2 linked regions of the Homo sapiens genome follow. The protein of the gene in region 1 interacts with the protein of each later gene in a pairwise test. Each region holds a gene or a part of one and is shown in the gene's direction. Other genes may lie near its edges. The genes, in order: MKNK1 and RCN3.

What was found.
Region 2: the proteins of MKNK1 (region 1) and RCN3 interact in a two-hybrid assay, tested with the Homo sapiens proteins (one large-scale study listed by BioGRID and IntAct).

The regions. Positions count from the first base shown.
Region 1 is NC_000001.11:46,597,621-46,601,438, reverse strand, and holds part of MKNK1 (MAP kinase-interacting serine/threonine-protein kinase 1), read left to right. Parts: intron 1-3,818. UniProt on the Homo sapiens protein: May play a role in the response to environmental stress and cytokines. Appears to regulate translation by phosphorylating EIF4E, thus increasing the affinity of this protein for the 7-methylguanosine-containing mRNA cap.
Region 2 is NC_000019.10:49,541,068-49,544,451, forward strand, and holds the end of RCN3 (reticulocalbin-3 precursor), read left to right. Parts: intron 1-1,485; coding exon 1,486-1,685; intron 1,686-2,038; coding exon 2,039-2,146; 3' UTR 2,147-2,566; downstream 2,567-3,384. UniProt on the Homo sapiens protein: Probable molecular chaperone assisting protein biosynthesis and transport in the endoplasmic reticulum.

The DNA.
Region 1 (3,818 bases):
TGCCCTTGGCCTTGGGAAACAGTGGTTCCTCCCATCTGGGGACCAGCAGCTATAAATGCACATTTTCCCTTGCCAACAGCCTCAGCATGTGGAAGAGAAAGTTATTTCTTGATCAGAGAAAAATTTACATGGTTGAAGGTAGAAGGAGCTTGGAAACCAACCATCTGGTTCCGCCACTTTCATTTTATAGATGGGGAAAGGACTTGATTGAGATTACACAAGGAGGCCGGTGTGTGGCTCACGCCTGTAATCCCAGCACTTTGGGAGGCCGAGGCAGGTGGATCACCTGAGGTCAGAAGTTCGAGACCAGCCTGACCAACATGGTGAAACCCCATCTCTACTAAAAATACAAAAATTAGCTGTGCATGGTGGTGGGTGCCTGTAATCCCAACTATTTGGGAGGCTGAGGCAGGAGAATCGCTTGAACCCAGAAGGCAGAGGTTGCAGTGAGCTGAAATTGTGCCATTGCACTCCAGCCTGGGCGACAGAGTGAGACTCTGTCTCAAAAAAAAAAAAAGATTACACAAGGAATCAGTCAGTAGTGGAGATAGTTCTAGAAGTGAAATGTCATGACTCTGTTTTTTCAGTCTACTACGTTGTTAATACAACATCGAACATTTATTGCACACTTGCTGTGTTCCAGACACTGTTTTTAAAAGTGTTTTTAACTCTGTGTTATAGCTTGGAAACTAAGGCAGATCATTCAGATCTATTTTCCAATTCCACAACTCTGGGTTTTAGTGTGGTTTTAATGGCAGTCACCTCCTACCCAGTGGGGTGGAACAGTTCTCCAAAGAGCTTGCTCCCAGATCTCCGTGAGTGAGAAGTGTTGTCCCAGCAATGTCTCCTTATATGCTGGAGAGAGATCCCAAGAAGAGTCCAGAGTGTATTGGAAGAATGGATGAAGGAATGAAACAAGCCCACATGAGTATTAGCGGATCTTAGTTTAGGAATATTCATGTACTTCAAAAATTGCCTATTTATCAAGTTAGGCAGTAAATGCAGTTTTAGAATGAACTCAGTCTGGGATCTTTCTGTAAAGATTCCCAGTATAGGATGGAAAGATTCAATTCGGTAAGCACATATTGAGCTCTTGCTATGTACAAGACCCTGGTATTGAGAAATATACACAGAGGAAAACAACACATTTCCTGCCCTCCTATAAATAATTGTCTTCTCAGAACCTTCTCCCTCCAGTGTAGTTGGGAAGATAGATAAGTACATAAATAACTGAAATCAGACTGACTATGGTAAATGTAGTAAGGAATGTAAACAAAGTGGGAGTTTGGAAGAAGGAGAAATCAATCCCAGCATGACCAGAGGATTCCTGAAGGTGGAGAATTTATGCTGGGCCTTGGAGGGAGTTTATTCCTGGGAGAAGGAACAGCTTGAGCAACAGTTGAGAGGCAGAAATGCTCAGGTGTAGGGGTGTGTGTGTGTGTGTTGTGGGAGGGGAGAGGAGTTGGTGAGGAGAAGAAGTAAGCCGAATTGGCAGATTTTGGCTAAAATGTAGAGAGTGGAGTAGGGAGCAGAACACTAGCATTTATAAAGTGTCTCCTTTGCTTTGTGGCTTGCAGTATGCTGGTTGCTTTACATACTATATTTAATCCTGTAATATAGGCCTATTTATCTCCAATCTAAAGATGAGGAAACCAGACCTCAGAAAGATTAAAGTGACTTCCCCAAGGTTAGATAGATAGTAAGGGCACAGCTTGGTTCAAAACTAGCAGTGCTGAGTTCAAAGGCCCATGTTATCTTCCTTATGCTAGAGGCTCCAAATGCCCTGACTGGCGCTCGGTTTTCTCTGGCAGCAGGACGGAGGTTAGACTGGAGCAAAGATGGTCCCAGAATGGGGACATCAGTGAAGAGGCTTAAACGGTGAATCACTGGCCTAGTTTGGAAGCTGCATGGACTAGGTCTGCTTGATAGGTTTAATAGGTGATCATTTTGGCAGCACCCACAGTGCCATAAATCAGTGCATTGCCATCCTTAGCTAGTAGAATCTTAGAACCAGTTTACAGAAGCTGCAGGACCCTGGTATTTCAGGCATGGGTTCTGATGGGAGATTGACGTTACAAAAGGGTCTGTCGGGGGAGGCAGCCTGTTTGGCACATCCTGTCTCTTCATTTTCTCACCCTCAAATTCAACAAGAGTCTGTAAGTAGGACAGAGCACTAACTTGGAGTGCAGAGGCTGGCATTCAAGTCCTGCACCTGCTCATTATCATCTGAGAGTCCTCAGTCTGTTTCTTTCCTTTGTATTTGCTGTCAGATTATTCCCTCCTGCAGCCAGTTATGGTTCACAGAGTCGTTGGGTTGCTTTCCAGAGCCACAGCTGATCTGGGGAAGCCATATCAGAAGCGGGAATAACAGTTACTAGTTATTGGGTGCCTACTGTATGCCAGGCACTGATGCCATGAGCTCCATATACATTAGCTCACTTAATTCTCATGACAACTCTGTGATGTGGGTGTAATTGCCCCCATTTTATAGATGCTGATAATCAGAGGAGTATTTTGGTTCACTTCTGAGGCCTCAACTCTTGCTAATGTCCTGGCTTGGGACTGTATGAGGAAGAACTGAGAATATAAACAGGATTCAGAGAGACTAGAGTTTATATTCCAGCCTCTCATCCTTACAGAGAGACAGTAGTTAGGTATGTGGACTCTAGAGTCAGGCTATCTGGGTTTGAGTCCTGGCTCTGTCACTTGCTACCTGTGTGACTTGGGCAAGTTATTTAATCTTCCTGAGTTTCTGTTCCTTCATCTGTAAAATGAGAATACAAATATTACTTACCTCATGGGGTTGTTATGAGAATTGAGATACAACAGCACAGTGCCTGGCACACAGTAGGTGCTCAATGAATGTGAGCTTTAATAGTAATAATATTAATAAATATATGAATGCCCAGTTTGGTACTGTTTTTATAGAAAGTATATTTATTAGGGCCATTTTCCCTTCCCCCGCATTGTTACCTTCTCTTTCTTTCCATTGCCCTGTCAGGAACCTTTGAGATACTAGATTGTTCCAGCACATGGTTGCAATGCATAACATGGCAGAAAGTGCCTGTAGGAAATGGGTCAATAAAAATCAGTGGCTCGTTAGAAAATCTTACCTGACTTGTGTTTTCACCTCTCTCCACAGTAAACAGGAACAGAGCAGCACATATATTACTTTTTTCACAGCCTTCAACAAGAGTGCCAAGCAAGACTCCTCCAATTCACTTGCCAAAAGTACAATAACAGTATCTCTGGAAAAGTGGTGCCTAATTTGGTTCTTCTTTCTGTCCAGCTTAAACCCTTCAGGCCTTAACTTAAGCCATTTCTTCTTGTTCCATTTTCCATGAATATGGAAAAGTTTCTTCTGATTTTAAAGGGAGGATGAGATCAAGATTTTCTCATGAGAACCTTTTCTGTACTTAAAGCCAGAATCCAGTTAAACCTCATCTTCTCTTCTCCCGGCTAAACAGCCTTGGTCTCTTTAACCTCACTCTTAAAACCTGTTTTCCATTGCTTGGATCACATTGGTCATGCCTCTTTTCTTTCTCTTCGGTTTTTCTGCTTTGTGGCAGTGACCCAGACTGTACTCGGTCTTCTAATAAGAGTCCAGCTAAAACAGCTTAAGGGAAGAATAACTTCAGCTGTTTCCATCCATTCATTAACAATTATGAAGTGGTTGCCCCATACCAGAGCCTCTGCTAGGTGTAGGGGTCCCAGAGATGAAGGAGACATAGTCTCTACCCTGTCCCTGGCTAACAGTCTAGGGGAAGATGCGTAATAAAATGTTACAGGTAATTTAATTATGCACAAGTGTAGGAAGC
Region 2 (3,384 bases), on another chromosome or scaffold:
TTATGGGCGTGCACTACCACGCCTGGCTAATTTTGTATTTTTAGTAGAGACGGGGTTTCACCATTTTGGTCAGGCTGGTCTTGAACTCTTGACCTCAGGTTATCCACCTGCCTCGGCCTCCCAAAGTGCTGGGATTACAGGCGCGAACCACCGCACCCAGCCTATCTTCTCAATTACTTCATCCCATTAAGACTTCATCTTCCATTCCTCAGCTCTACCAGGCAGACACTGTCACTATCCTCCATTATATAGATGACACCTGAGGCCCAGGGGGGTTGAAGGGATCTGCTGAAGACAATGGGAAGAGGCAGGGCTAGGATTTGAACCTTGGTGTTTGGGCTCTGGCACCTATTTCTTAACTCCTCCCCAACCAGTAACATATCAAAATGTATAAAATTGGGGTGGGTGCCATGGCTCACGCCTGTATTCCCAGCACTTTAGGAGGCCAAGGTGGGTGGATCACTTGAGGTCAAGAGTTCAAGACCAGCCTGGCCAACATGATGAAACCCTGTCTCTACTAAAACTAGAAAAATTAGCTGGGCGTGGTGGCGGGTACCTGTAATCCCAGCTACTTGGGAGGCTGAGGCAGGAGAATCACTTGAACCCAGAAGGTGCAGGTTGCAGTGAGCTGAGATTGTGTCACTGCACTCCAGCCTGTAATCCCAGCACTTTGGGAGACTGAGGCAGGTGGATCATGGGGTCAGGAGTTTGAGAGCAGCCTGGCCAAGATGGTGAAACCCCGCCTCTACTAAAAATATAAAAATTAGCTGGGTGTGGTGGCACGCACCTGTAATCCCAGCTACTTGGGAGGCTGAGGCAGGAGAATCGCTTGAACCTGGGAGGCAGAGGTTGCAGTGAGCTGAGATTGCGCCATTGCACTACAGCCTGGGCAACAAGAGCGAAACTCCATCTTAAAAAAAAAAAGGGGGTGGGGTCTTGCCCTGTTGCCCAGGCTGGAGTGCAGTGGGGTAATCACAGCGAGACTCCATCTCAAAAAAAAAAAAAAAAATTTGTAGAAACAGGGTCTTGCTATGTTGCCCAGGTTGGTCTTGAATCTTGGCCTCAAATGACCCTCCTGCCTGGGTCTCCCAAAGTGTTGGATTACAGTCATCACTGCACCTGGCATCTCTGTCACCTGCTAACTGGCCAGAAACATCCTCGCACGTTCCTCCTGCATAGACATTGCTTACTATGTGCCAGGCACTGCCTTGCCCATTGCACACACTACTTCACGTGTGTGTCAATGAAATCAATCAATCATGCAATCAACCAATCAAATGAATTTCACCTGTAACACAAATGATTGCTTATAAGTCAGGTTTTGTTACTAATTCCATCGAAACAGAAGAGGACGCTGAGGCGAGAGAGAGGGTAGTGAGTTGCTCAAGGGCCTGGTTCAGGAAGTATCAGAGCCAGGATCAGCCCCCAGCTCCACTAGACCCCCAGAGCTGCCCCTGACCTTGTCCCCTCTGTCCCGGCCCCCAGCGGATCTGTACTCAGCCGAGCCTGGGGAGGAGGAGCCGGCGTGGGTGCAGACGGAGAGGCAGCAGTTCCGGGACTTCCGGGATCTGAACAAGGATGGGCACCTGGATGGGAGTGAGGTGGGCCACTGGGTGCTGCCCCCTGCCCAGGACCAGCCCCTGGTGGAAGCCAACCACCTGCTGCACGAGAGCGACACGGACAAGGTGCAGTGACGGGGCCTCGGCAGGAGCGAGGAGCGGGTGGGCATTGCGGGCCAGACTCCAGAAAGGAGCAAGACCTGGGCCTGGAGCTCAGGGTCCCTTTTAGGTGGGATAAAAAAAGAGGGACAGAGAGAGGGAGGAAAAGAGAGGGCACGGAGCCCCAGAAAGAGAGGGGGACAGAGACCCAGAGACCCAAAGAGAGAAGGACAGGGACCAAGACGGGGACAGATTCAGAGAGAAAGGGACAGAGGCCCAGAGAACAAGGGTCCCAGAGACTTCGGGACACGCTTGGATGCAGGGAGGGCTTTTGAAAGCAGGGCCGTGTTGTCCCCTCTGAACCCTGACCCTCCCTCCAGGATGGGCGGCTGAGCAAAGCGGAAATCCTGGGTAATTGGAACATGTTTGTGGGCAGTCAGGCCACCAACTATGGCGAGGACCTGACCCGGCACCACGATGAGCTGTGAGCACCGCGCACCTGCCACAGCCTCAGAGGCCCGCACAATGACCGGAGGAGGGGCCGCTGTGGTCTGGCCCCCTCCCTGTCCAGGCCCCGCAGGAGGCAGATGCAGTCCCAGGCATCCTCCTGCCCCTGGGCTCTCAGGGACCCCCTGGGTCGGCTTCTGTCCCTGTCACACCCCCAACCCCAGGGAGGGGCTGTCATAGTCCCAGAGGATAAGCAATACCTATTTCTGACTGAGTCTCCCAGCCCAGACCCAGGGACCCTTGGCCCCAAGCTCAGCTCTAAGAACCGCCCCAACCCCTCCAGCTCCAAATCTGAGCCTCCACCACATAGACTGAAACTCCCCTGGCCCCAGCCCTCTCCTGCCTGGCCTGGCCTGGGACACCTCCTCTCTGCCAGGAGGCAATAAAAGCCAGCGCCGGGACCTTGTGTGTCTGTCTGTTGTCTGCCTGTCTCTATGAAGGGTAAGGGGGCCCTGGAGATGGTTTGGGGGCTGTGACTGGGAGTTGGGGGCTGAGACATGCAATAGGGGACCAGGCATTTGAAGGAGGGGTGCTGGGTGTTGGAGGGATTGGAGGGCGTTCCTCAGTATAAAACAAACAAACAAAAAAAATTGGGCCAGGCCCGGTGGCTCACGCCTGTAAGCCCAGCAATTTGGGAGGCTGAGGCGGGTAGATCACGAGGTCGGGGGTCCTAGACCAGCCTGGCCAACATGGTGAAACCCCGTCTCTACTAGAAATACAAAAATTAACCAGGCCTGGTGATGGGCACCTATAATCCCAGCTACTCTGGAGGCTGAAGCAGAATCGCTTGAACCCGGGAGGTGGAGGTTGTCGTGAGCCGAAATGGCGCCACTGCACTCCAGCCTGGGTGACAGAGGGAGACTCTGTCTCAAAAAAAAAAGGGAAAAAAAGCCTGGACTCTGCAGCGCACAAACCAGACAGGAAGCCCTGCCCTCTCAGAGCTCCAGTTCTGTAAGGAAGAGACACAGCGACCTAAAATATGGCACGGCGCAACAGATGCTGTGAAGCAGGGGAAGCGTGTAGCAGTGTGGCAATGTTCTGATGACTGAGAGGCTGGGAAAGGTCTCAATGGTAAATGGAGTGAAGGAGGGAGCCACGGAGAGATCTGGAGGGAGAGCATTCCAGGGAGAGAGAAGAGCAAGTAAAATGGCCCTGAGGCAGGAGTGGGCCTGGTGTGGCAGCATCAGCAAGGAGGCTAGAGTGGCTGGAAGGGAATGAG